Regions from separate parts of the Homo sapiens genome. Here regions 1 and 3 are each linked to region 2. Evidence: fine-mapped expression QTL. A gene starts in region 2. Each other region holds a variant in brackets. All regions are shown on one strand. Distances are from middle to middle. Region 1 overlaps SUB1 (SUB1 regulator of transcription). Region 2 holds the start of NPR3 (natriuretic peptide receptor 3). Region 3 overlaps LOC124900954 (a long non-coding RNA gene).

What was found.
Region 1: its variant is fine-mapped to the expression of NPR3 in blood mononuclear cells (TOPMed, PIP above 0.99).
Region 3: its variant is fine-mapped to the expression of NPR3 in CD4 T cells (Kasela 2017, PIP 0.95).

The regions. Positions count from the first base shown.
Region 1 is chr5:32,592,779-32,601,525 of GRCh38, forward strand. SUB1 (SUB1 regulator of transcription) reads left to right here. Exons shown (of 5, transcript NM_006713.4): 4 at 6,183-6,291; 5 at 8,227-8,747. The coding sequence ends at 8,306. Among named protein-coding and RNA genes, the nearest start is that of SUB1, 12 kb to the left of the region's middle. The variant T/A (reference allele first, on the strand shown) is at 6,173.
Region 2 is chr5:32,705,520-32,716,235 of GRCh38, forward strand. It overlaps NPR3 (natriuretic peptide receptor 3), which reads left to right and starts at 5,802. Exons shown (of 8, transcript NM_001204375.2): 1 at 5,802-7,026. The coding sequence starts at 6,258. RefSeq lists an enhancer at 6,163-6,888 and a silencer at 6,764-7,058.
Region 3 is chr5:32,562,722-32,573,437 of GRCh38, forward strand. It overlaps LOC124900954 (a long non-coding RNA gene), which reads left to right. Exons shown (of 5, transcript XR_007058719.1): 5 at 8,370-9,011. Among named protein-coding and RNA genes, the nearest start is that of SUB1, 17 kb to the right of the region's middle. RefSeq lists an enhancer at 10,440-10,529. The variant AAAGAAAGG/A (reference allele first, on the strand shown) is at 5,546.

The DNA of each region.
Region 1 (8,747 bases), 110 kb before region 2:
ATCAGCATGGTTGACTAAAGCTGCCTACTGAAGTATTAAACAGAGGAAGAACAGGAAGCAGATGAGGGGATGTCTTGGGTTATATTCAGATAGAGAATGGAAGGAAAAAGAGGATGTAGGTTAAGAGAGAGGGTGAAGGAAAATTAGAAGAGTGCAGTAATGGGAGCAAGAAAAGGATGAGTGTTTCCAGGAGCTATAAGTATTAGTTGAAACCAAAAAGTTGGGTGGAACGAGACTACAATTTTTTTTTTGAGACAGGGTCTCTGCTCTGTCACCCAGGCTGGAGTGCAGTGGTGTGATCTCTGCTCACTGCAACTTCCGCTTCCTGGGCTCAAATGATCCTCCTGCCTCAGCCTCCTGAGTAACTGGGACTACAGGCAATGCTCCATGACGCCTGGCAAATTTTCTTTGTTGTTGGTAGAAACAGTATTGCCCAGGCTGGTCTTGAACTCCTGAGCTCAAGTGATGCGCCCACCTTGGCTTCTGAAAGTGCTGGGATTACAGGCGTGAGCCACCGTGACTGGCCAAGACTGTAGACATTTATATGACTAGAAAGTAAGGCTAACACATGTATATTTTGACCTGTTGATAACTTTGAAAGGTGGAGTGCCAAGATTAAGGTGAGAATGGGAAAATTTAAGTTTTTTTTTTCCTATTGCTTATTTTTGCCTTGTTATACTTCTAGGTAAAAAAGATAGACAAAGTGCAGATGAACTATTTAGTTCAGAACACACATTTTAGAGATTCTGTTCTGTTAAGAGGAGTTTTGTGAAAACTAGATCTAATTTTAGGAATTTTCTCACCAGAAAAACGGAGCTTCATTTCTTAAACCCTCATCTGGAAAGATTCCTAAGCCTCCTAAGGCTGACATTGCACCTTTTGAAAGCCTGCCTCTAGGAGGAACATAGGTCATCTTTTCTTTTTTTTTTTTTTGAGACGGAGTCTCGCTCTGTCACCAGGCTGGAGTGCAGTAGCACGAATCTCGGCTCACTGCAACCTCCGCCTCCTGGGTTCAAGAGATTCTCCTGCCTCAGTCTCCTGAGTAGCTGGGACTACAGGCATGCGCCACCACCCCCAGCCAATTTTTGTATTTTTAGTAGAGACGGGATTTCACCTGGTTGGCCAGGATGGTCTCGATCTCTTGACCTCGCCATCTGCCTGCCTTGGCCTCCCAAAGTGCTGGGATTACAGGTGTGAGCCACGGCGCCCAGCCTAGGCCTTATTTTCAGAGTGGCTTTCATGGATCTAGTAGTGTAGGCATTATGAAATAATATGATACTTAATTTCATTGCCATTACAGCTTGATGTACATCAAACATCAATACATAAGCAGTTCTCTAAATGTATTAAAGAGTTGTACCAAAGAAAAATCAATAGACTTATCTTTTAAAGTCTGAAGTGATTGGGGCAGAATCGTGACTAGAGAGAAGATACTAGAGATGCTTACTTCCTGGTTCCTTCAGCTCTGATTTTGAAGAACTTTCTTCCATAGGGATGTAGTCTACCTGAGGTGACATCTGTGATAGTAAAGAGACTGGAGAATTATCTCATAATTATTTAGTACCTGTGTCTTGAAAGGTCAGAATAGTTGAGGCAGGAAACTTTAATCCATATTTTTCTTCAGAGTTAGGCACAAAGGGTCAGTAATACTGCTTTAGTTTATTTGATGATTTAAGGATACTTGATACTTTTAAATTATTTAATTTAAAATGATTATAACTGGTCATTTTAATCTGGGGCAGGAGTCCATAGAATTGTTTTTTAATTTGAGTTTTCTTTTTTGTGTTTGAAGGAATTATTCATAACCTTTATCACAGGGGTCCCTCCTGCACAGGAGGTGAGCGGTGTGTGAGTGAACATTGCAGCCCGAGCTCTGCCTCCTGTCAGATCAGCAGCGGCATTAGATTCTCATAGGAGCGCGAACCCTATTGTGAACTGCGCATGCAAGGGATCTAGGTTGTGCGTTCCTTATTCCTTATGAGAATCTAATGCCTGATGGTGGGATAATTTTTATCCTGAAACGATCACCTTTCCCCTTCCCTACCTGCTGTGGAAAAATTGTCTTCCGTGAGACTGGTCCCTGGTGCCAAAAAGGTTAGGAACCACTGCTTTATCAGATCTTCAGAGGGGACAGGGAATCAAATTCGTATAAGAATCACAGTTCTTTATGATGTATATGCTATTTTTTGCTGCTAATCTCCAGATTTTGTGGATATAAAATATATTGTCATCTGATTTTATTTTTTTCCAATAAAATGTGATTTCAGTGATCTTTATTTTTTCTATCTTTAAGTAATATATCCCTATACTACTATCTCATCACTTGTTTAATTTTTGCTAATAAGAATTTGTCAGTTTTACTCTTTTTTTCCCCCCAAGGGAGAGGCAGCTGTTGGGCAGATTCCTTTTTTTTTTAAAAAAAAAAATGTTTTTGAGGTATAGTTTATGTCCAATAAAACGCACACATTTAAAAGCATACCTTGATAGGCTGTGGTAAATGTACACGCCTTTGTGGCCAGACCATTTTCATCACCCCAGGAAGTTCCTCTTGGCTTTACAGTCATTGCTCATGTCCTAGGTAATCACTGATCTTATTTCTACCACTATAGATTTATGTTGTCTCTTCTAGAACTTTGTATAAATGGATACATGCAGTCTATTTTTTGTGTCTGGCTTTTGCTCAGTATAATGTGTTGAGATTAGTTCTTGTTGCATATATCAGTAATTTTATTGCTGAGTAGTATTTTGTATGATAATACTACAACTTGTAAATCCATTCACCTTGGGTGGACATTGGGATTGTATCAAGTCTTGGGCTATTAGGAATACAACTGCTGTGAATATTCTTGTACAAGTCATTTTGTGGACATTTTTTCCCTTTTGGGTAAATACCAGATACATTTGCTGAGTCGTAGGGTAAATGTGTAACTGTATAAGACACTGTCAAACCATTTTCCATAGTAGCTGTAGCATTTTACACAGCCATCGGTACTACTTAGGAGATTCCAGTTGCTCCACATCCTCGCTAGATATTGTCAGTCTTTTAAGTTTTTTTCTTTTTAGTTACATTGAATGTATAATGGTAGCTCATGGTGGTTTTACTTTCCATTTCCCTCATGTACATGTCTTAATTCATTGTACATCTTTAGTGTGTTTATTGGTTATTTTTATATCTTTTGTGAAGAGTATCTTTTGGCCACTTAAAATGCCAGGTCATTTGAGTTGTAACACTTTATATATTTTGTCAGATGTAAGTATAATTAATATTTTTTTTAGACTTCAGGGAAACTTTAGTTTTCAAAGCAATCTAGTTCAAAAATGAGTGGAGGTTAACAGAGAGGAAAATATGAAACCAGAGAGAATCAAACAGACAGAATAAGGGGGGACTGGCAGTTGGTCAGGGGCGTCTGTGACAGATCTTCTCTCTCTTGGAAATGAGGTCCTCACGGATTCTGGTCAGTTCATCATTTTCTTCACGTCCACGGTTCTGCTTCTTCCTCAGGCTCTCCTCGAAGGCCAAGACCCCTGTGGCTCCAACTTGAGTGAATATTTTCTTTAGGTTTCTGGTTTACCTTTTTATTTTCTGAAGCATCTTTTTAAAAAAGGCTTTAGTGTGATTGTCTATTCTATCGATTTTTCTCCTTTTTTGCTTAATGCTTATTTTCTGTCCAAGACGTATTTTGCCTACCATGGCCACAAAAATTTTTGCCAGTGTTTTTTCCTAGAAGTTTTATAGTTTTAGTTTTCACATTTAGGTCTATAATTCATGTAGAATTAATTTCTCTGTGTATGATGTAAGATAGAGATTTAGAGTCTTCCCCACCCCAAATGCAGATAGCCTGTTGTTTCAACACCATTTGTTGAAAAGAGTATTCTTATTCCTTTGAATTACCTTGGATTTTACCCCCTCCCCCCAAAAAAATCAGTGAATATATCCAATGCGTGTGTATTTTTTGACTCCGTTGTGTTCCACTGACCTCTTATGTCTGTCTTTACTCCAGTACTGCATTGTCTTCCCTTACTATATTATAGTGAGTCTTGGAAAGTGCTAAGAGACACTTTGTTGAGGAAAGCCTGTTCTTTTCTCTGGAATTTGTAATTTGTGGTAAGCAGATATATAAGATTTTTGAAAAATAATTTTCTGTGAATATTTTTAAGTTCTCAATCTGACTGTGAGTGAGGTGCATTAAAGATGTTATTTGAAGTGAACATGAAAAGGAAAAACTTGGTTGTTATTGACTGGAACTCTGGATTCGTATATTCAGAATGGTTGGTGAAGCAGTGTAGCTAGTTGCATCTGTGGATTCCTCTTGGTTGTAGTTTGTACTGCAAAATATTGCTTCCTAATGATTTTTTTTTTTGCTGGTAAAAACCATAAAAGTATATTCACATTGTTGTGAAACAGATTGCCGAAACTGTTTCATCTTGCAAAACTGAACCTCTGTGGCCATTAAACAACAGTTCCCCTTCTCCCAGCCCTGGTAACCACCATTCTACTTTTTGTTCCTGTGAACTTGACATCATGTAAGTGGAATCATAAAGTATTACCTTTTTCCTTTTTATGACTGGCTTATTTCATTGACGTAGTATGTAACAGGATTTCCTTTTTTAAAAGCTAATTGATATTCCATTGTGTGTCTATTCCACCCCCCCTCTCCCATTTTGTTTATCAGTTCATCTCTGGGTGGATATTTGTGTTGTTTCCACTTCTTGGCTCTTGTGAATAATGCTGCTATGAACATGGGTGTGCAGATGTCTCTTGGAGTCTGTGCTTTCAATTTTTTGGGATATATATTCAGAAGTAGGATTGCTGGATCATATGATAGTTTAAACAGCAATTTCCTTTGGTTGCAGTTTTGATACTGAGAGTAGTACAGTTGACCCTTGAACAATGCAGGGTCAAAATGCAAGGCACCAACCCCTGTGCAGTTGAAAATCTGGTTATAACTTTTGACTTTGTCAAAACTGCTAAGTATAGCCTACTGTTGACTGGTAGCCTTAACAGTAACATAAACAGTTAACATATATTTGTATGTTATATGTATTATATACTGTATTCTTACAATAAAGTAAGCTAGAGAAAAGAAAATATTACTAAGAAAATCATAAGGGAGAAAAATTACATTTTACTGTACTGTATGGTGTTTATCAATAACATTAGTTTACGTTGTCTGTTTATAAGATATGTCATCTGTTAATAAAATATGTCATCTGTTAGAAATTGTAGGCAACCACAGCTGCAGATTTCAGTCCGTGGTACATATCAAGCAATTCAACTTTTTTATTTTTATTTTTATTTTTATTTTTTTGCATTTTAAAATTAAAGACAGGATCTTGCTGTGTTGCCCAGATTGGATTCAAGCTCCTGGGCTCAAGTGATCCTCCGGCCTCAGCCTCCTGAGTAGCTGGGATCATAGGCATGCACCACTGCTTCTGGCAGTTTTTTTCTTGTGATGTCATGCCTTCTCTCTGCTTCTTGGGAGCACTTTCAGCATCACTAGGGGCACTTTGTATAGGACTCATGGTGTTATTTAAAGTTTATGGTATTGCAGTAATCATGATGAAAAATAATGTGAAAACCGTGAGAGATCACTTTTTACTGCAATACGCAATTTGTTGGAGACATGAACTGCTCAGCAGAGATGATTAGCATCACATGGTGTTTTACACAAGGTGTTTTAAGCAGATACTTGTAACATTTGAGTACACTGAGATAACAGGAAGTGGCTATGAAGTTAACACTAGTACACTACTGTAGTTAATTTTATGCAGTTATGAATTAATACTCCATCTTTGTTTACATTTCTCTCTAACTTCATATAATAGATTTGTATGTTTTATGATAGTAAGTGATAAAATAACCTCATATCTAGGTATGTTTTATGCATTCATGACATACCTAACTTTTTCTTAATGTTTTCGTTATTTCTAGGCTATGCAGTTGTTCTGTGAGTTTTTTCAAATTGTCAAGTCTGCAAAAATTTTTCCAGTATATTTATTGAAAAAAATATGCATATAAGTGGGACCTGCACAGTTCAGAGCCATGTTGTTCAAGGGTCAGCAGTAGTCATTTTCATGATTAGATGTAGAGTGAGCATGCAGCAAGTTGTGAATATGAATACAATTGAAACAGATACCACTCTTGAAAGGAGCACCTCTTTTTATGTTTGTT[T/A]CTTTTGCAGATTGGGAAAATGAGGTACGTTAGTGTTCGCGATTTTAAAGGCAAAGTGCTAATTGATATTAGAGAATATTGGATGGATCCTGAAGGTGAAATGAAACCAGGAAGAAAAGGTGAGGTCTAATTACTTGAATTTTATTACAGTGTTAGGACTAAACGACAACTTTTCTGAGTAGCTTACTTGAAATGTTGGCAGGACACACGGGGCAAGGAAGAGTCTTACTCAATTGATTCTCTATCTTCTGTAGTTATTTTGGACATGATACTTAACATTTTTTTAATGAGATGTCTTAATACAGCTTTTGGGAATAAAACCCAGAAAAGTAACACCCCTAATATCACTTCAGTTGGCTGCTAATTTACTTGAACAATTTTTAAAAAGGTTTATGCAATTCTGAAGCAGATTAGGCACTATCTGGGAACTTGTAAAATCAGGAATGGAAAATCTTGGTTTACAATGCTTCCTTTTGATTCAGCTCCTAAAAGCTATTCTTTAGGGCATTACTCTTCAAGCGGATCTCTGCTTTCCTTCCATTTGTGCTTCATCCAGTCCCAAGCCTCTTAGCATTGTAGAAACATATTTTGTATAATTCACCAAACAGCTAGAGAAGGTGAGCCAACCTAAATTTGTATATTTGGATTGCTGCTCTAGGTTGACCCTCAGCTAAAGAAAAATGCTTCCTTATTTAGTTTTATTCTGCCTGCCTGTTAGTTTGAAAGGTACCACTTGTTTGCTTCATGCAGTTTTTTTTTTTTTGGTTAAACTCAGCCTCTATATGTGTTTATATGCTTTCATATTTTCTTCAAGTCACTTCTGGATTGGTAATTCACGTACCAGAGTGGCCGATGCCATATTTCTTGTTTATTCTTTTTTTTCAATTTCATGGCCTTCCAGCAGTTTTCTGGGAATACTTTCTGCCAGTTCTTGTTTACTTCTCTGTTTATATGCGTCGGTATTGGAATGCTAGAACGTTAAAGTACAAAATATAGAAAATATAAAATTTCTGTTCATACTTTTACATCTTAAACTGGAAAGACATATCTCACATTTTTTAACCATTTATGTGTTAGGTGATATGCTAAGTTCATTATTCATGTTACTTAATCATTTACAACAACTCTTTGGCGTATAGATGCCATTTTACTGGTGAGGAAACTAAGGCTTACAAGGTGATGTAGTTCTTTTTTAAGGGTCATACACTTAGTGAAAGTGAGGCTGGAATTTTAACCCTGATAGGGTGACCCTAGAGTGCAGTTACCCGGGTATACTCTCTGAGGAGTCCTGTATGAATCACGTCCTGGGAATTTTTCCAAAGTGAAATGAATGCTTCTGGAAGAACTCAGCACAATTGGCTTGAATTCCTGTGGAAATTTTGGGCAAATATTGGAACCAGCTGGAAATATAGTAATGGGGTATCACATGCCAAATCTGGACCTGACCATTTTAGCCTGATAGTTGACGGGTATTAGTAAGATGTGTCTTCAAACCCTTATTTATTCTCATTGGTTACAATAGGTACTATGCAGGATGCACTGTGGAAAGTAAGACTGGATATGAGATTGATAATGCTCAGTAAATTGTGATGATATGTAATTAACAAATGTAAGAGATATGATTTTCAGTATTGTAGCATTGTGTCCAAGTGGCAATTTTTTTTTTTTTTTTAGATGGAGTCTTGCTCTCTTGCCCAGGCTGGAGTGCAGTGGCATGATCTTGGCTCACTGTAACTTCCACCTCCCAGGTTCGAGCAATTCTCCTGTCTCAGCCTCTTGAGTAGCTGGGATTACAGGTGCCCACCACCATGCCCGGCTAATTTTTGTATTTTTAGTAGAGATGGGGTTTCACCATGTTGGGCCAGGCTGGTCTTGAACTCCTGACCTCAAGTGATCCACCCGCCTTGGCCTCCCAAAGTGCTGGGATTACAGGTGTGAGCCACCGCGCCCAGCCTAAAGTGGCAATTTTGATAAAACAGTATTCTAGTTGGAAGTATGAAAATCCTCAACGCTTAAATAGATTTTCACCTTTGAATTTTTAAACTTTGTTTTAGGTATTTCTTTAAATCCAGAACAATGGAGCCAGCTGAAGGAACAGATTTCTGACATTGATGATGCAGTAAGAAAACTGTAAAATTCGAGCCATATAAATAAAACCTGTACTGTTCTAGTTGTTTTAATCTGTCTTTTTACATTGGCTTTTGTTTTCTAAATGTTCTCCAAGCTATTGTATGTTTGGATTGCAGAAGAATTTGTAAGATGAATACTTTTTTTTAATGTGCATTATTAAAAATATTGAGTGAAGCTAATTGTCAACTTTATTAAGGATTACTTTGTCTGCCCACCACCTAGTGTAAAATAAAATCAAGTAATACAATCTTAACTGTTGTGGCCTTTTTTGATCATAAGAGTTGGTACTGTTTAAGGCCAAAAGTAACAGTTTTTATAGATCTTTTAGTTTCAACTCAGCTTTTACAATAAAAAGGATTTGTATTGCATTGAGTTTATAAACTTTTGGTTTGTGAACTTCATATTTGATCTTTTCTCTTCCAATCAAATGTCTAGGCTTGTTTGA
Region 2 (10,716 bases):
GTAGGCATGTCTTACATGGCTAGAGCAGGAGGAAGAGGGATGGGGAGGGGGAGATGCTACACACTTTTAAACAACTAGATTTTATGAGAACTCTATCACCATGACAGCACCAAGGGGGATGGTGTTAAACCATGAGAAACTGCCCCCGTGACCCAATCACCTCCCACCAGTCCCCTTTTCAAATATTGGGGATTACAATTCAACATGAGATTTGGGGAGGGACACAGATTCAAACCATATCAATGGGGAAGACCAGCGATTAACAGCAGAAACAATAATCAACGCCATAGATATCTCAATTGGTTCAGCTTCCACATTTCCAATGGAAAAATTAAAGTTCAGCAAATATTCCAGTCAATGGGTGCCAAAACTGTTGCAGCCAGATTAGTTGAAGACAAAAGCAGAACTTTCAATGGAAATTTTAAACAAGTGAAATATCCCAAAGCATTTATTTGGAGAATTGTCCCTGCCAAATCTCATGCTGAATTGTAATCCCCAATGTCAGTGGCGGGGCCTGGTGGGAGATGTTTGGGTCATGGGGGCGTATCCCTCATGACTTGGTGCTGTCCTTGGCAATAGTGAGTGAATTCTCATGAGATCTGGCTGTTTAAGTGTGTGGCACCTCCCTGCCAACCCTGCACTCTGTCTCAGCATGTGAGGTGCCTGCTCCCCCTTCGCCTTCTGCCATTCTTGTAAGCTTGCTGAGGCCCTCGTCGGAAGCCGAGCAGATTCTGGTGCCATGCTTCTTGTACATCCTGCAGAACCATGAGCTAATTAAACAACTTTTCTTTATAAATTAACCAGTCTCAGTTATTTCCTTATTTCAATGCAAAAATGGCCTAATACACAGGGGGATGAAACACTGCTTTACCAACATGATCCTGAAGACAAACACAATTAAAGCAGTGGCTACCAAGAGGTGGAAGTGGTCAAGAGCCAAGGTTATGGCAATGGTTTCTTGAAATGCTTAAGGCATTTTGCTTGTTGACTTTCTGGAGGATCAAAGAATGGTAACTTTTGTTTATTTTGAGAGTGTTTTGATAAAGTTAGTCAAAACTTTGCCTAGAAATGTCTGGGAAAGTTTCGCCAGAGACTTCTTCCCCACCACGACAATATTCCTGCTCATTTCTGTCATCAAACAAAGGTGATTTTGTGAGAGTTTTGATGGGAAATCATTAGGTATCTACCTTATAGTCCTGATTTGGCTCCTTCTGACTTCTCTTTGTTTCCTGATCTTAAATAAATTTGTAAAGGGCACTCATTTTTTATTTTTTTCAGTTAATAAAGATTGCATTGACATGCTTAAGTTTCCAGGACCCTTGGTTTTTTAGGGATAAACTACATGGTTGGGATCACCACTCAGAAGAGTGTCTTGAACTTGATGAATCTTTTGTTAAGAAATAAAGTTCATATTTTAAATTTTTATCTTTTAATTCCATTTTACATGAACTTTTTGAAGTCCCCATTCACACTCGTTTTTGTGAATATAATAATCTACATAAATTAACTTGTCTATAAATCAATGATATGAGAATTCTTCATATAGCTTGCAAATCTTATGCCAGTATTCAGGTTAAATCACTGACTAGCTATACGTTTTTCAGAAGTCTTTCTAATGTCACTTTGCCTCAGAACATCTTCAAAGAAGTGAAAAAAAGATGGTAGTTGATGGAAATCTAAGAGGATTATAATAAAGAAACAACTCTGTGTTTTCAAAAGAACCCCTTAAGGTCACATTTAGCTGCAGCTTCTGATGAGATTGAATTATAAATTTAATTAGAAAAATATAAAATTACTATTATTTATAGTGCTGGCAAATTAAAATAATAGATTTATATAATAGAAGAAAAAGAGTAAGTTAATAAAGTCCCTGCTAAGGAAAGTAAGAACCTAGAGGCAAAATTTTAATTTAATTTTTTGGCATCCATTGATTTTTTTTCCCCACTTCTTGAATAGTTCACTCTAAAACAGCAACTATATGTAAAGAATGAAATCTCAACACTGATTACATTACAGAAATGTTCTTGAATTATTTGTAATGTTCTTTCATCTTTTCTGCCTCTAGGGGGGAGTGTGTTTTCAACAATTCTGGCCTCAGAAGGTATTTTATTGTGGGCCACAGGCTTCACAGGGGTATTCTCGAATACAACTTTAGGGCTGGCTCAACAAGGGAGAAAAGGACCTCTGAAAATCTAGGTGGGTTCTTAGTTTAGAGGTTGCAGCCAGGATGCCAAGGGAGAAGAGTTGCAGAGACTGTTACAGTTGGTGGTGGAGAAAACTTACTTCTGATAGAATTTCTAATACACTTCAAAGAATCACATGTTAGTTTTCCTATATTAATGCTGTCTTTCCTGGTAGTGAGAAATAACATATAGACAGTAATTTCATTTCATAGAGCTGGAAAATAAACCGTTGAATACTTTATAGAAAACTTGCCACCTTATTGTAGTAGCTTGCCACCTTATTGTAGTAGCTTTAAAAAAAAAAAAAAAAAAAACAACCCAAACAACAAAACATGGTTTGTGGATATTAAGTAAAACATTTCTAAACCTCATAAAAAGTCTATTAGTTTCTGAAATATCCTGTTTAGAGCTAACATTGTCTTTCTTTCAAATGGCTAATTTTCTTTCATTTTGCAGCATTTTCCCATAACTTTCCTTTGGTTTCATTCAACAACTGAAGCCAGAAAGGAAGCACCTAGTAAAAAGGTTACCACTCTTTTGAATGTTAAAAAAATACTTATTTTTCCCCATTTCAGTGTTTTACAGAATTGAAAGAAATAATATTTAAAAATTGAGTCAAATAAATAAGTTATTTCTATTTTTTCCTTTTGATTCATTTTTGTGATTAAAGTGCTGCAAAAATTCTATTACAAAATGTTATTTTTGGGTTTATTGTGCTGTATTAGCCTCCAAACTTAGCTATATATATATATAAAAATTTGATATAAAGAATGTTATTACTTAGAGTAGAAATTAACTTTGTTCCTAACACTTTCACATGATGTAACTGGTGGTCCTTGGTTTACTTTGAATACAATCCCATTTAAAAATATTCTCAGGGGATGAAGAGGTATTTAAGTATATCACTTATACTGTTTGGGCCTTAATTCATCTAGAGAGTAAGGGGTGTCAGGCTGGGTGACTTAAGTCTTCTGGCCTGAAGATTTAGAACTACTTATTTACACAAACTTTCAGTTGGTTGCAAAAATTCTAACTTGATGGAAAGTAAACAAACCCGTAACTTTGAAATCCATACACTTACATTACTTGGTGGGTCTTCCCATAATCTTGTGACTCTTTTCATTTGAAAAGGTTTTTTAAAAACCCTAATTGTTGCTCACTGGAATTCTTAAGGGGTGTTTTGAGCTTCAGCAAAAGCATAACACTGGCTTTTTTTTTTTTTTTAATTCGTTCCGCTGCTTGGTTTGGGGTCTCTTCCCTTCCGCAGCTTGGTCTTGTTGCTGCTCTTGAGTGTGACAAACTGCAAGTCGAGAGCTCTTGTCCAAAAGCTGCGGAGAGGCTACGGGCACTCACCCTTACTTAAGCGCACTGCCCTGCTGTTGAACTGCAGGCGAGGCTAGGTAGCATCTGGGATGGGACAGGCGTTCACACCGGTGCCACTGAAACCCCAGACTCTCCGCATAAACCCACACCACACGCGGCAGAATCATATCGCCATTGGCTGGTGTTCCGCAGACACAGGGCATACCGCAGAGTAATAGGAAACACTGGTTCCTACCACTGTGGCCAGTGGTAGGACTGGGTCTCCGAGGCAGGACCTTTCTTGGAGTCTCGGAACCCCAGCACAGTGCCTGGCAACCAGTTTCGAAATCCATTAAGACCCTTGGAATTCATGATTTAGTTCTTGTTTTGTTGTTGTTCTTTTTCTTTTTTTTTTTTTTTAATCTGTGCTGCCATAAACGCCTGCCCTTCTGCAAATTCAGGAAAGATTTAATTGCTGTGGAGCACTAAATCTCAATTTCCAGTGTGTGTGGATTACCCTGTTTGTGGAATTAAATTTTATACAGATGTCTCTTTTGCTCCTGGTTAGTGGCTCTAATTAAATAAATGGAAATTCTCGCAGGAATTAGAAGCTCCTACTTAACAGTGAAGATTTCGGGATCACAGTGCATAATCTGAATATAAATGACCCAGAAGCTGAAACATTACCCATAATCACATTGACGGTTCCAGAAAGAGCGATAAGGAGAGTGCTGTTAAGGGAGGCGAGCGCTGACGCCAGAAGTTGCCATATCCCCAGAAACCCCAGTTTGCCTTTTCACCGTCGCAAGTGAGAACCAGAGCGCGTTAAAGGCCTCGGAGTAAAAAACGCAGCGTCTGGGACTGCGGCACCCGGGTTGAGTCGGGTGCAAGTTTCTGCCGAAAGAGGGCGTCGGTCTGAGACTAAAAGAAATTTGTGGACACGGACGCCTAGTCAAATGAAAGACCATTTTAACACATTTTCAATGTATTTAAATGTGCGGGACTTAATTGTCAGAATTCTCCCGCCCAGTGTAGCCCGTTCACATTGCAAATGACTTGGCTGCAGTAGGCACAGAAGGTCCAGTTCCATTTTGACCCGCCCCGCCGCGCGGCGGACTCCCGCGATGCTCCTCTGGTCACGGACTTCTCCAGAGCCGCTTCCCTCCGGTCTCCACCGCTGCTGTGGCTATGGCCAGTGGGAGGACTGGGTCTCCGAGGCAGGACCTTTCTTGGAGTCGCGGAACCCCAGCACAGTGCCTCGAGCGCTCCAGAGAAGGAGCGGTTGGATCTTTGAGCACTCAGGTTGGAGGGGAGCGTGTGTCGTACCCGGGGGACCTACCGGGAACGTTTTGGGAAAGACAGTCCCTTTATTTAGGTACCTGGTTTAGCAAACAAAGCCCCGAGGACGCTTTGGGGATGCTTTCCAAGCTTTGTGACACCTCCAGAAGTTGAACCATTCCCTCGCCTTTGGGAGCAACAAGTTTCACTTTCCTGCTCTCAGTGCGCTGACAGAGGGTCCGTGAGCTGGGACACTGTGACCTCGGCACCGCTGCGATTCCAGCGCAAACCTGCGTGGCCCAGGGGGAGGGGGCTGGCGCGGGGCTGAGGAAGGCGGGGTGTAGGTGACGCCCGGGCCAGCCGGGCACACCAGGTCCGCGATGGAGCCATCTGCACTGGGACCTTGGTCCTTGTTCCCTGACCTTGCGCCGAGGGACCAGGAAGGTCAGGTGCTCGCCCCGCGTCGGTGCTTCAGGAGGGAATGTGGCCAGAACGAGAAAGGTGAGAGCAAGCGGCACCTAAGGATTTTTGCACCGAAACCACAATTTCTAGAACCATCCCTTTCCCCCAGTCCTGGTTTTTTTTTTTTTTTGCACGGTGTGTGTGTGTATATGTGTGTGTGTGTGTGTGTGTGTATGTGTGCGTGCGCGCGCGCATTTCTCTACTTTAAAGCACGTTTCCTTTTTTGAAGCCAGGAGCTGGAGAGCGTGGAAAGGGAGAGGCGGTGATCGCACAGGCACGCGGCGTGGTGGGGGCTCTTGCCGGTGCAGACGTGGGCGATTTCAGCTTTAAGGAAAAGGCAGAGGGCCTGCGGGGAGTGGTGGTTAGGGACAGGGGCGCGATGGGTAGTGAAGGGGTGCAGGGAGGAGCCCTGATGTAAGAATGTTAATGAGAGACTCCCCCAGCCCAGCCCCCACATCTCCCCACCCCCACCCACCCCACCCGCTGGAAACACAAGCCCGGCCTCGGCGCGCCATGTGTGGTAACACGCTCAGCCGCTGCCACGCTATTTAAACGCGGGCTATGGATCCAGGAACCGGCGCGAATCAATGAGATCAAATGCGAGGGAGATGCACCGTCAATTACAAACACTTGGACAAGTCTAACTTTTTTTTTCTTCTACAAAAACGCTTTCAAAAGCAACCTTAGCAACGCCCAAATAAGAAGCCACCTCTAAGCAAAATAGTATATGTATAAACGGAGGGCGAATATATACAAGTATATATATATGTATATTACAGACGCACAGGTTTACACCCGGTGAACTTTTTCTTTTTCTTTTTCTTTTTTTTTTAAGAAAAACTAGTGACATTGCAGAGAAGGACGCTTCCTCTCTATCTTTTGGCGCATTAGTGAAGGGGGTATTCTATTTTGTTAAAGCGCCCAAGGGGGCGCAGGGACCTTGGAGAGAAGAGTGGGGAGGAAAGAGGAAGGGTGGGTGGGGGGCAGAGGGCGAGTCGGCGGCGGCGAGGGCAAGCTCTTTCTTGCGGCACGATGCCGTCTCTGCTGGTGCTCACTTTCTCCCCGTGCGTACTACTCGGCTGGGCGTTGCTGGCCGGCGGCACCGGTGGCGGTGGCGTTGGCGGCGGCGGCGGTGGCGCGGGCATAGGCGGCGGACGCCAGGAGAGAGAGGCGCTGCCGCCACAGAAGATCGAGGTGCTGGTGTTACTGCCCCAGGATGACTCGTACTTGTTTTCACTCACCCGGGTGCGGCCGGCCATCGAGTATGCTCTGCGCAGCGTGGAGGGCAACGGGACTGGGAGGCGGCTTCTGCCGCCGGGCACTCGCTTCCAGGTGGCTTACGAGGATTCAGACTGTGGGAACCGTGCGCTCTTCAGCTTGGTGGACCGCGTGGCGGCGGCGCGGGGCGCCAAGCCAGACCTTATCCTGGGGCCAGTGTGCGAGTATGCAGCAGCGCCAGTGGCCCGGCTTGCATCGCACTGGGACCTGCCCATGCTGTCGGCTGGGGCGCTGGCCGCTGGCTTCCAGCACAAGGACTCTGAGTACTCGCACCTCACGCGCGTGGCGCCCGCCTACGCCAAGATGGGCGAGATGATGCTCGCCCTGTTCCGCCACCACCACTGGAGCCGCGCTGCACTGGTCTACAGCGACGACAAGCTGGAGCGGAACTGCTACTTCACCCTCGAGGGGGTCCACGAGGTCTTCCAGGAGGAGGGTTTGCACACGTCCATCTACAGTTTCGACGAGACCAAAGACTTGGATCTGGAAGACATCGTGCGCAATATCCAGGCCAGTGAGAGAGGTGAGCAGGGGCGCGTCCCGGGCCCCGGGCCCTAACCCAACCGCTCTCCGCGGCTCTCCCTGCACACTCGTCCACTCTGCAGACCCCACTCCCCACTGCGGCGCTGAGGTCGGGTGCGCGCGGGCACTCGTTCAGGTATGCGCCGTGTGGCTGCGACAACCTTTGACGACCGCCCATCGCGGTGTACGTAGAGGGTCCCAGGGAGGTGAAGGGGTTGGAGGAGAGGGCGTCTGTAGCTCCTGCGTGCCCAGGTCCAACAGGTGCTGTCAAACACTTCGATGTTTTTTCTTCCCAGTTTCCACTTTGCCAGCGCCGGGCTGGTGATTAGGGGGCGCACTCCCAGTGCCTGGCTCCATCCAGGGTCTGAAGCATCCGAGGCGGAAAGAACTTGTTCCCCAGTCCTTTGCCAGCGTGCGCCCCCACTTAGTGCGGAAGCGTCCGCGGACGCCTCGCAGCGAGGCGTCGCCACTTAGCTCGCCCGCTCTTGGGGTTTCTCTGACTGTTGTTTCCACAGACCCCAGGTTTCTTTTAAAGGCTTGTTGACTCACTCTTCTCATTCCTTTCATTTCCCTTCCAGCCCCTTATAAACGAGCTTCTGTGGTTTCCACCAAAAATGCCCCTGTGTGTCTGAATTCTGGCGACACTCACTTCTCCCAGAGTGTTCTGCAACGCAGTTTCTAATGCGCCCAGAGCTAAGCTTTGCGGGAGTGCCTTTTGAAGAAACGAGCGCTGAACCTTCTTTCCACCTGTCCCCCAAGTTTTCTCCATGGGTCTTTGGGTGTTGGAATAAAACCCAAACTGGACAAAGAGCTCGAGGCTGAGGATGGTGGCTATGGCTTCGGGGAGCGGGGGGACGCGGACGTGTAATCGCCAGTGTGGCCCATTTTACGGTAGGGTAGAATCTGAGGGAAGGCGGACTGAGATGCCGGTATAGCGCCGATCCCTCCTCCCTCTAGTCAGGGATTAGGAGCACTGCGATGAGGGAATCCCGTCTCTGCTCCCCCTTGGCGCTCACGCGCCTGGAATGTGAGTGGTGCAATCCCGGCAAAGCTCCCCGAGACCCCAGTGCCACGCGGATGAGACCGAAGGGGAGCGGAGTTGAGCCAGGCGCCGGGCTAGTCCACAACTTGGCATGGCCGAGCACCTGGGCGCTGGTCGTAGGGGACAGCGCAACCTGAGGCCGAAGGCCCCAGGAACAGGTGAGAGTGGACAGAGAAGCCATCGATAATGGCGCTGCTGTCACCGCCTTGCCATCTTGGCCACCTCGGACTCACCCTTTAGAGCAAAGAGGCGAGAGGTGTTTGACAGTGGGAATGCATGGCCAAATTTTGAGCTCTGGAACTCCAGGCTGTCTGTGCCGAATTCCTACCAGCCAAGCAGGCGGGGCGCAGGCTTTGCCGATTATGAAAAAGGGCACGTGTGTCCAACGGCTGCGGACTTGCCACGCCTGCCACGCCTCGGCAAGGAACCCACATCTACACTCCCAAGTCCCAGTCGCCAGGTTACTGCAGCCTCCACGGGGGTGTCTGCGCCCCGGGCTGCTAAGGCTCCCGGAACCTGCTTCTCCAGTTCTCGGCTTTCGAGGGCTAGGCGCTAGAAGTCAGAGACTTCCCAAGGCCGGCTGGGACTGGGGGTGTGTCCCCCTATGGGCGAGATCCGCGGTTTGCTGACTCGTCCGTAATGTCACTACCCTGTAGATCCCAATGTCAGCGGCTGCCCCGGCGCACGTGGCCTGGGATACAAAACCAAGGGCATGTGTGAGACCAGAGGAGGGCAGATCGCGGCCCCGGGGCCCCTCGCCCTCACAGTGGTGGCTGAGGCCTGGGGCTGGGCGGACAGCAGTGCCCTGGTGGGCCTGGGGACTGGTGCGCCCCGGGCTTCTGAGGACTAGGGCTGCAGTCGGCTGTAAGAATTATTTTTTAATTCCAAAAGCCTCATAGACGTTCCGAAGTCTCTTTGCTTTTTTTTTTTTTTTCCAAGTTTGCATTGAGGGGTGAAAGTTTGCTTAACTGACCTGTATATTTTACAAGTGATAAGGTTAGGATTTTACAATTCTTACTCTAAAAAGTATTTCCAACAGTGACCTGGCAGATATTTAGAAATAGGAAACAAAACAGTTTCTCCTCTAATCGTCCTCCAATCGCCTCTAATCATCCTTCCACCCCGAAATTCCTTACACTCGAGAGAAAAAGTTACTTGATAACAAAGCTCTCTTAGGGGACCTTTTAAAAATACATTGAAGTAACACAGTTACTTTACCGTAAGCACTTAATGTATTAAATAGGGCTTCGGTACATGATTGCAGTGAAGTTTCTGGCTCAGTCACCGGCTGGGGGATCTTGGACTGCTATGAAACCTCTGTACCTCGAGCTCCTTAGGTAAAGTGGGGGTAGTCAGAGCACCCACGTCTTTGGGAAACTGTGAGGGTTACAGAAGCTAACCCAGGAATGCCTGGGAGCACTGCCAGAAGAATATGAAGTGCTCAATAAATGTGCGGTTTCATTGTAGTTATTATTTTATATATGATGATAATCACCTTTACCCCAAGGGTGAGGCCATGCCATGGGAAAGAACCCTGGGCTGAGATGCAGATGCCTCTGGATTTGGCTGGCCTCCTTATGTGAGTTTTCTTCTCTGTGAAACAATGTGTGGGGTGAGAATCAGGCCTCTTCAAACTGATATTCTCACCCAAGTGTGAAAATGCAACTGACAGTATTTTTGCTTTTGAAAATTCCCTATTAAGTATTATGAATTAAAGTAGAGAGAGTTCCTCCCTCTTTTGGTGAGAACATTGGTATTACTTTTTTTTTGGACTTAAGTTTCTCTTTAAAACCAAATCACAAATGTTTGAACAAGTAAAAAACTGACCGTGCCAGCATCTCAAATAATAATGCGACTAAAATTTCACATGGCATACTGTAGAAAGAAAAACAGGGGCATCAATTATTCCTTCATTTTAAGGATTTACCATCTAAGTCAATAATTTAAAATCTTTTTTTTTCCTGTCATGTCTTTCGCTAATGCCACTAAAATAAACAGACCTGAGCCTATATTATTTTTAAAAACAATTATCTTTATTTAAAATAGATTCACTTACACAGCCAGCTACTGCCCTCAATATTCCACACACTTAACAATAAATTTAGTTTTAAAAAGACAGGCTTAGAAATAATTTTTTCAAGCAATACAAGCCAGTAGTTGTTTTGTCGATGCACTTTATATGATGCAGAACTAGAAGTATCCTAACGCAAATGTTTTTATGTGAAGAACTGTAGTTTTATCCTTTTAGTTATTAGTATGTCATTAATCTGGGCCTGCATAATGACTGTACAACATTATACAGTCTGTAGAGATAGAGATAACAGTATTTAATCAATACAAGAAACATTTATTTTTAGAATTAGTCTGGGGTAAATGACCGAGTGGTCAATCAGCAGCATTTTTAAGGAAAGAACCCATGATAAGTGTAAAATAACTAACACAGCAGGGGAAAAAAGGAGCTTTGTAGGCTGCACTGTGGAAATTCTAAAGGCCTTTGGAGTAGATGGAGCTTTATGAACAACAGAAATAAAGATGCAATCTCCATTTTGCAAACAATATCCATTGCTATGGAGTGTAGAAACAGCCAGAGAGAAATCTTTTTTGAAAAAAGTTAGATTTACATTTTACCAAAATTTAGTTCTACAGCTA
Region 3 (10,716 bases), 140 kb before region 2:
CAGCTAGGCTTTTCTGAAACTACAATTCCTCCAATGTTTTCAACATGACATAATCAATATACCAATCCAGCATAATTTGGGATGGCATGTCCTTCACTCCTTCATATGTGTAGCCCCCAGTTATCAACATCCCCTGCCAGAGTGGAACATTTGTTATAATTGATGAATCTACCTTGACACACCATAATCACCCAAAGTCCTCAGTTGACATTAGGGCTCACTCTTGGTGTTGTGCAGTTTATGGGTTTGGACAAACCTATAGTGTCATACAGAGTAGCTTCACTGGCTTGAAAATCCTCTGTGCTCTGCCTAGTCATCCCTCTCTTCCCTGTAACCCCTGGCAACCACTAATCTTCACTGTCTCCATAGTTTCTCCTTTTCCAGAATGTCCAGACTTCTTTTTGTTGCAGATGAATAAAGGTCTACAATGCTTAAGCCACTGTTGGTCAGGAATTCTGTTATTTGCAGCCAAACACATCCTAACTGAATTATGTCCCAACTGGATTTTAAGTTCCTTGAGGCAGAGATACTGTATTTAATTTATTTGTATTTCTCATAATACTATGGAAGATTTTCTTACATAGGGTAGGCACAAGTTTAATAAATGAATGGATAAAAGGATAAATAATAACAATCTAGTCTGAGCATGGTGGCTCATACCTGTAATCCCAGCACTTTGGGAGGCTGGATGGGAGGATCACCTGAAGCCAGGAGTTGAGAGGCTGCAGTGAGCTCTGATTATACTACTGCACTCCAGCCTGGGCAACAGAGCAAGACCCCATCCCTTAAAAAAAAGGCAATCCAAAATACTCTGGCTCCTAAAATATGGGCCAGCTTGGCCATGGATTTGGTGGCCATCCGGTAGTCAGACCCCACATTACAATAGCCTAATGAAACCAACAAATCTTAGAGCTCGAAAGGACTATACAGCTCTGGGTCACTGAGCCCAAACCTCTCATTTTACAAATAAGGAAATAGATACACAGTGCTTAATTGATATTTGTTAGTGACAAATATAGTGCTAGGTCACCCTGTTCCCAGGCTAGTAATCTTTCCATTACATTGTGCTTACTTATCTTGGCTCTTGGTTCCAACCCAGGCTCCTCCATCCCAGAATAGCTCCAGGCTCCCCACATTAGTGCTCCAATATTTGTGGCCTAGGCCTACTTGAGATCTAGGCAACCATTCTGACTTTGAACTACCAGCAAAGGCCAGCAAGTACAAGGGGCTTGTGTAAGCATTGCGGTCATTTGGGAAGGAAATATGGGGATCTAGCAGGAGTTACAGTTTTAGGGCAGACTTGAACAAGATGGCAGCAGAGAGGTAGGTGCAAGGCAGAACTGCCTTCCCGTTTATCAAGTTCAGATCATCTCAGAGAGGCTCCCTAGGGGCAGTTGCCTATATTTCAGCCCTGATTCAGATCCTATTGTACTTGGTAGGTTTTAGGATTGCTCTGATGGTCAATTGTATGTGTCAACTGGGTGAAACACCAGTCTAGATGTTGCTGTGAAGGTATTTTGGATGTGATTAACATTTAAATCAGTAGACTTTGAGTAAAGCAGATTACCCTCCATAGTGTGAGTGGGCCTCATCCAATCAGTTGACAGCCTTAAGAAAAAAGACTGAGATCCCTCAAGGAACAGATAATTTTGCCTGCAAGCAGCCTTGGACTTGAGCTGTAGCATCGACTCTTCCCTGGGTCTCCAGTCTGCTGGTCTGACCTGCAAATGTTGGACTTGCCAGCACCCACAATCTCTCTCTCTCTCTCCACACACACACACACACACACACACACACACACACACACACACGCGCACACACACACACACACACACACACACACACACACACTATATCCTGTTGCTTCTCTTTATTTTTTGGAGAATCCTAACTAACAAAACTACCCTGAAGTCTAAAGATGTATGGCCATTGTACTCCTTATCAGTTGTTAGGGTAGATATTTACAACTGGTGGGGATGACTTTGCCCTCAGACTCTGTCTTACAGGGGACAAACAGGAAGCATGGAAAGAAATACAGTGCACCTTGACAGCACAGTTTAAACAGCACCTGGAATCTTCAACATCCTGCCCTTAAGGAACCTGTTTTAAAGCGGAGTTTTCTTTCCCCATTGTAACTTTATGTCTATTCTATTCATCCTTCTGCTGTGGTTTACTTTTCTCACTCTTATGGGGAAACTGCAAAACAGCTGCCTCCCCAACACCCCAGACTTCTTCACAGGGAGACAGTCAAGGAAATGTTGACATGCCTTGGGAATTAATGGTCCATCTCTGTTCTTTCCCAGAGCTAATCACTGAACCAGCTGTACAGGAGGTATCAGGAGAGGTGCTTTAAGGATGCTCAGAGACCTGGCTTGAAGCAATGAAAAATTGATGTTGCTGAGAGGAGAGAACTGCAGAGCAGCAACTGCAGGCAGAACTAGCATGGGTGGGGATGGGGGCTGGAGGAAGGGGAGAAGGTGGGGATGGCAGGCCTGGGCCTCCTTATAAATAGCAACTTGATTACCTTGACAGCCATAAGATAGGACATAGGGGCTGCAGAGAGGGGTGGTCCTGACAGGCAGTTTCTCTCCATGCAATGTACAATGTGCACCACATTGCACTTCCTCTTTGGTGTCAGAGGTAGTTAAAGGCCTATTATCTATGTGACTACCATGGACACCAGATGCATAAGAAATGATGCTAATCACTTCCCCACCTTGTTGTGAGCATCCATGGAGAGGATGTTGTGTTGAAACACTTGAAGCTGCACCAACGTCCATTTTACTATTATCTTTGGTTCCTAGAAAAAACTAACTCCTTTTTTTCTCTATAAATTACCCAGCCTTAGGTATTCTGTTATAGCAACACTAAACAGACTAAGTATCAAAGTCTAAACAGGAATTTTTTTCTTATTATGATTAAAAACCATATAACTTCTCTTGATAAGGCTGTCCCAGAGAAAAAAGAAAACAGTCTGAAAACACAGGAGAAAAAATGAATCCAGGGTTATTTTATAATTACATTTTAAGCTCATGCTCTCTACAAGGGTTGGGAAGAGGGGCCAGTTTGTATTACTACATACAATAAATGTATATGTATATTGTATATATTATTATATACAATAAAATTATATATAGTATATATATAACTTCATATATAAAAAATATATAATTTCATTTATAGAGCACACATATATATGAACTTTTTAGGTACGTGTAAAGTTCAACACTTTAAAACAATTGTCACCTATCTAATGATCTCCATTGAGATTCCCTGAATTGCAGAGTTAAAAAGATGTAGCTGTTGGTATCATTTTCAGATAAGAAGGGTAGGACGAGGGAGCATCTGCAGGTGAGTTTTTGTGGATGGAGAGGTATAAGGTGTTTTGGAAGTCTCTGTGAGGGGCACAGTGAGCTCCCTGTGTCTCCCCTCCTCCACTAATTTAGGGCTTCCATATAATATATAAAAATCCATTTGTAATCTATTTTTGGTTATTATTCTAGGGTAACAGGAATGATGAGTTACTGTTCTGTGACATGTCATTTTGAAGAATACTATTGCCTTTCTTCTCATTCAGAGTTAACAGGAATTCTATGATGGGAAAGTTACTTTGATGAACTCAGCTGAAGCACTGATAACTCCCCAGAGCTGTGGTTCTCAGTCAGGGACTATTTCTGTTTCCAGGGAACATTTGGCAATATATTGGGACATTTTTTTGGTTGTCACAGTTAGGGCAGAGATATCACTGACATACAGTGGGTTGAGGCCAAGAGTGTTGCCAAACATACTACAATGCAAAGCAGAGTCCCCACTGCCAAAGACTTATCTGACCCCAAATGTAATGTTGTCAGGGTCGATGAACCCTGCACAAGAGCAAATCATCAGTCTTTCAAACCGGCCCCTCTTCCCAACCCTTGTAGGGAACATGAGCTTAAAGGTTAACTTTCAAACATTCCTGGATTCATTTTTTCTCCTGCATTTTCAGATTGTTTTCTTTTTTTCTCTGGGACAGTCTCATCAGGAGAAGTTACATGTTTTCTAGTCATAATAAGAAAAAGCATTCCTGTTTAGACTTTGATGGTTAGTCCATTTAGTGTTGCCATAACAGAACGCTTAAGGCTGGGTAATTTGTAGAGAAAAAAAGGTTTACTTGGTTCATGATTCTGATGGCTGGAAAGTCCAAGATTGGACATCTGCATCTGGTAAGGGCCTCAGGCTGCCTCCACTCATGGTGGAAGGCAAAGGGGAGCAGGTGTTTGCAAAGATCACATGGTGAGAGAGGAAGCAATGGAGAGAAGGTGATATGGTTTGGATGTGTATTCCTGCCCAAATCTCATATTGATACATAATCCCCAGTGTTGGAGGTGGGGCCTGGTGGGAGGTGATTGGATTATGACATGGCTTTCTCATGAATGATTTAGTACCATCCCCCTAGGTACCGTCCTTGTGATAGTGAGTGAACTCTCATGAGATCTGGGCATTTAAAAGTGTGTAGCACCTTCCCTACTCTCTCTCTCCTGCTCTGCCTTTCACCTTCTGCCATGATTGTAAGTTTCCTGAAGCCTCCACAGAAGCCAAGCAGATCCCAGCACCATGCTTCCTGTACAGCCTGCAGAACCATGAGCCAATTAAACCTCTTTTCTTTATAAATTACCCAGTCTCAGGTATTTTTTTATAGCAATGTGAGAATGGACTAATACAGGGTGGGAGGTGCCAGGTTCTTTTTAACAACTGGCTGTCTCCCAAGAAGTAATAGAGCTAGAGTGTAACTCACTCACCCTTGAGGGAGGGCATTAATCTGTTCATGATGGATTCACCCCCATGACCCAAATTCCTCCCACTAGGCCCGACACCACCATATTGGGGATCAAATTCAACGTAACTTTTGGGGGGAAGAAATAAGCCATATCTAAACCATAGCAGATACTTTTAATCCTTATTTCTTTTTCACCTTTTGCTTTGTTTTACCACCAAACTAGCAAAAGAGCCATGCACAGGCAGTCCACAGAATCCAGGTCACACAGGGGTATGAGCAGCAAGGCCTCCTGGGTGCCTCCTGTGTCCTCACAGAGATCTTCTTGAGGTCCCTGCAGGCCTGTTGCAGGGAGGAATCCCCTGGGGTGTGGCCTCCTTTTTAAGACACTTGAACTTTGATGACTTGAAAGTTAACCTAAAGAAGCCGGGCACAGTGGCTCACCCCTGTAATCCCAGTGCTTTGAGAGGCCGAGGTGGGCGGATCACCTGAGTTCAGGAGTTTGAGACCAACCTGGCCAACATGCCAAAACCTTGTCTCTATTAAAACTACAAACAATTAATGGGGCATGGTCGTGGGCACCTACAATCCCAGCTACTGGGGAGGCTGAGGCAAAAGAATCACTTGAACCTGGGAGGCGGAGGTTGCAGTGAGCCAAGATTGTGCCACTGCACTCCAGCCTGGGTGACAGAGCAAAACTCCATCTTAAAAAAGAAAAGAAAGAAAGGAAAGAAAGAAAGAAAGGAAGAAAGAAAGAAAGAAAGAAAGAAAGAAAGAAAGAAAGAAAGAAAG[AAAGAAAGG/A]AAGGAAGGCTGGACGCGGTGGCTCACGCCTGTAATCCCAGCACTTTGGGAGGCCGAGGTGGGTGGATCAGAAGGTCAGCAGCTCGTGACCATCCTGGCCAACATGGTGAAACCCCGTCTCTACTAAAAATACAAAAATTAGCTGGGCATGGTGGCGTGTGCTACTCGGGAGGGTGAGGCACGAGAATCGCTTGAACCCAGGAGGTGGAGATTGCAGTGAGCCAAGATCACACCACTGCACTCCAGCCTGGTGACAGAAGGAGACTCCATCTCAAAAAAAAAAAAAAAAAAAGAAATAAAGTTAACCAAAAGCAAAAGCAAATAGTAGGAGACATTCAGCTTTTGTTTGAGTGCTCCCCTGGGTGAAGGGATGCCTTGCTTCATCAAAATGTCTAGACTCAGAAATTAAAATGTCTTCAAGGGCTCATAATAGGAGGAAGATTGATAAATTATACCGCTTAAAATGTCTTTCTTCACATTGTTCAGGGTTTGGTAAACTCCTCAAGACCTCAAGGCCTTGCTTATCTATAAGCTATCCAGAGCTGGGGACTGGGGTGAGAGAAAGTGAGGTGTCTGTTGTGTAAAATTTAAGAAGTAAGGAGACACTTAGGGTGATGCAAGTCCAGGGTCAGTGTGGGCACCAGGCACCTCTCTTGCTTCATCTGAGTACTGATTTTGAGGCTCTCCAAACTTTAAGAGGAGCCAGAGCCGCCTTCTATCACTGGAAAGGACACAGGAGGGTACAAAAGGCTTGGAAGACATTCCCAGGGCCATGAGTAATCTTTTTCTTCTTCTTTTTTTTTGAGACTGAGTCTCACTCTGTTGCAAAGGCTGGAATGCAGTGGCGTGATCTTGGCTCACTGCAACCTCTGCCTCCCAGGTTCAAGCGATTTTCGAGCCTCAGCCTCCTGAGTAGCTGGGATTACAGGCATGTGCCACCACACCAGGCTAATTTTTCTTTTTCTTTTTCTTTTTTTTTTTTTTTGTACTTTTAGTTGAGATGGGGTTTTACCATGTTGGCCAGGCTGGTTTTGAACTCCTGACCTCAAGTGATCTGCCTGCCTCAGCCTCCCAAAGTGCTGGGATTACAGGCATGAGCCACCACGCTTGGCCACCATGAGTAATCTTGAACCACATTTTGTCTAGCTTTGGAGATAAACCCTTACTGGGTCTCTCGGTCTCAAAGTTTCCCCTCAGCTCTGACACAGCCTGTTTGTAGTTTAGGGTTATTTTACTTATTCCCCATGATGTCTGTGTTATCTTTCCATTTCCAGATTGTTTATACTCTTCTTTCAGGCTCTCCAAGTAGTATTTCTCTTTTGGCCTTCTGAATCTTATGTTTCTCAGTTTGCTTGCTCCTTTTTCAAGGCAATTGCCAATGTGGTCATCCTTTTTTTTTTTTTTTTTTCCTTGCACTTAATAATTTCTAACTTACTATTTGTGGTAGGTTGAATAATATGTCAATCAATGGTATCCATGTCCTAATCCCTGGAACCTCTTGATTTTATCCCTATAAAGCAAAATAATTTTTTTGCAGATAGGATTAGGTTAAGAATCTTGAGATGGAGAGTTTATTTTAAATTATCTGGATGAGCACTAAGTGTAATCACAAGTGTCCTTATAAAAAGGAGGAAGAGGGAGATTTCATTATGAAAGTAGGAGATGGGACACAGAAGCAAGAGCTTGGAATGATTCAAGAAAGGGGCCATGAACCAAGGAATGCAGGCAGCCTCCAGAAGTTAAAAAAAGGCAAGGAAACGGATTCTTTTCTAGAGCCTCTAGAAGAAACCAGCCCTGCCAACACCTTGACTTTAGCCCAGTGAAACTGATTTTGGACTTCTGAACTCTGGAAATGTAAAACCCTAAATTATTGTTATTTAAAGCTACTGAGTTTGTGGTAATATGCTACACCAACAATAGGAAACTAATATAATATCTTTATGTCACAGTAAGTAGTGCAAACACATTTCTACACTATATACTCCATGAAGGAGGCAGCATCACCTGGAGTTAACAGTACTGGCTCTGGAGCAGTCAAACCTGGGTGTAAATCCTGGCTGATCCCTGTAGTAGACATTTGTCCGTCTCTGTCTACCCAGGCTTTTGAACTTTCTTCCTGTATGAGGCAGAATGTGTTAGTTGCCTTCCTACTGTTCACTCCTCATTTTCCATTACTAACAGCATCCTAATTTGTACAGAGTGATAAATTTCACCATCTTAGGAATAATCAAATTTTAGTCTGGGCACCGTGGCTCATGCCACGTAGCTTAAACTCCAGCACTTTGGGAGGTCAAGGCGGGAGGATCGCTTGAGCCCAGGAGTTCAAGACCAGCCTCGGCAATGTAGTGAGACCCCATCTCAAAAAAAAAAAATCCTGTTTTTAAAAATAAAAAAATAAAAAAAAATATTTTACAGTCTTCCTTGAAATCACAAGCAGCCACTGAAATAGTTCTTGTCAAGTGTTCATTTCTGGGAGAGACTTCAGAGGGGGCCTAAAAAGGGGTTAATTTGACTGGCATGCACCTTTGTCCTTTGACTTATCCTTCCTTCACAGAATGCCACACGCTAAGGATGGTGGTGTGGAAAGGAAGATATATCTTGGGTCGCTAACGGAATTGTGAGGATGACCTTCTAACTCTGGACTGTATCCTCAGACTTCTTGCTTTGTGAAAAGAATAAGGGCCTAGTTTGGTTAAGCCACTGGTTTTTGTGTTCTCTGTTATGTTAACCTTATAATTCATTATTTCTTTCACTCTAGTGGAATTTCTATTTTTGATTCTAGTATTCTAGTACATTGTACATGTATCTGTCAACAGATTCTAAACTCCCTGAAGGAGACAAATTACCAGTGGACAAGAACACAGCCTCTGGAGTCCAATAGGCCTGGTGCATTCATTAGGGTAAGTGGTGCTAGGTGCTATAACAGATAAACCTCAAATTATTTGTGACTTCACACAATATAACCTTATTTCTTCACTCATATGAAGTCGTTTTTAGTACACATTGCCATTTATGGACATAGGCTCTTACCTTCTCATGATTCTTTGCTGCTTAATCTGGCTAGAGTGGTTTCCTGATGTACACAGTGACAAACTCAGAGAGACACAGCTACTTACTAGATTGAGCTATAAGAAACTGATGACATATGAACATAAATACTGTCTACAAAATGGCAGTTTCACATGATTAAACCTAACTTCACATGTGATTTTGAGCAAGGGACTCTCTAAATCCATTTCTTTAGCTATAAAATGGGGTACCAATACTCATTCCCTCCAAGGAGATTATAAAGATCAAATAAGAGGATGTATGCAAAGAACTTCGCATACAGGCTGACACAGAGTCAGTAACTCAAACAGGTTAGGTATGATTTACCCAATGCCTAGCACAGACTCTCTGGCACATACTAGCTATTCTTTAATTATATATATGCATGTATGTATGTATAAATTGAGATAGAATTCACATACCATAGGCTGGGTGCAGTGGTGCTGTAATCCCAGCACTTCAGGAGGCCAAGGCAGGCGGATCATGAGGTCAAGAGATTGAGACCATCCTGGCCAACATGGTGAAACCCCTACTAAAAATACCAAAATTAGCTGGGCATGGTGGTGTGTGCCTGTAGTCCCAGCTACTCCGGTGGCTGAGGCAGGAGAATCGCTTGAACCCGGGAGGCGGAGGCTGCAGTAAGCCGAGATAGTACCACTGCACTCCAGCCTGACAACACAATGAGACTCCATCTCAAAAACAAAAACAAGTCACACACCATAAAATTCACCCTTTTAAAGTTACAATTCAGTGATTTTTAGTATATTCACAAAGTGATATAGTCATCATCACTGATTCCAGAACATTTTTATCACCACAATCAGAAACCTCATACCTGGCTGGGCGCAGTGGCTCACGCCTTTGGGAGGCCAAGGCAGGTGGATCGCCTGAGGTCAGGAGTTGAGGTCAGGAGTTCGAGACCAGCCTGGCCAACATGGTGAAACCCTGTCTCTACTAAAAATACAAAAAATTAGCCGGGCATGGTGGCGCATGCCTGTAGTCCAAGCTACTCGGGAGGTTGAGGCAGGAGAATCATTTGAACCCAGGAGGCAGAGGTTGCAGTGAGCCAAGATCAAGCCATTGCACTCCAGCCTGAGTGACAGAACAAGACTCTGTCTCACAATAAAAAAAAAGAAACCTCATACCTGATAGCAAGACCTTGTCTCTATTTAAAAAAGAAAAAAGAAAAAAAAGAAAAAAGAAACCTCATACCCATTAGCAGTCACTTTACCTTTCGAATGAATCATCTTTGTTTCAAAATGGCTGGCATAGTACCTTGCTCTTCGAATTCACTCTGTATTTATTGATTCTATTGGCATCTCCTGTAGAGTTGACAAAACATTTCTTGTTTATTCAACAACAATGGATAGTATGTCATTTAATTTGTCATTTAATATGTATGTGTGTGTATGTGTGCACACACACACAGCCCCCCCACATTTATGCTCAGGGAATCAGATTCTCCCACACCAAAATAATAAAATGACAAAAATAATAATAACAATAATATTGTTGATAACAATCCTGGTTGTGCATTTTAAAATGACAGAAGGAGGCTATTGTGATATGATGCCATGGGCTTTCCACCTCTGAGAGAATTCACAAAGGAGGCTGGAAAGAAGCGCTCCAGTTTCTACATTCTCACGTGCAATCACCTTCTTTCTCTCCTTGTTGGCAGTCACTGCAGCTCAGCTTGCTGAAAGAGAAGAAACTGAGCCAGTGTCTAAGAGGGTGCCTCAAAAGTTCCTCGACTGTATTAATCTTTTGATTTTAGAACTTTTATAAATAGCACTACTTTGAACACACGCAAAGAAGGGCAAGTCAAAGTGAAAATAGCCCAGTTCTTCTTCTTAGCTAAGAATGCCTCCTTTCTATACCTATGAGATTGGACAGGATGCATCACTGGGGGACTTTGCTTGATTCTGTTCAGAGTCGCAGCTGTAAAAGCAGGTGCATTTTTTTTTTTTGCCATTTGACATTCTTAAAGAAAAGTCATCCTGGAAAACAACCCAATTTAGTATTTGCATTACTCTGCATGGTTGATGGTTTCAAAAGATTAATGTTTATTTTGGGAACGGTTCATCGTTTTTATCTTTGAAACAGTCAACTTCTCTT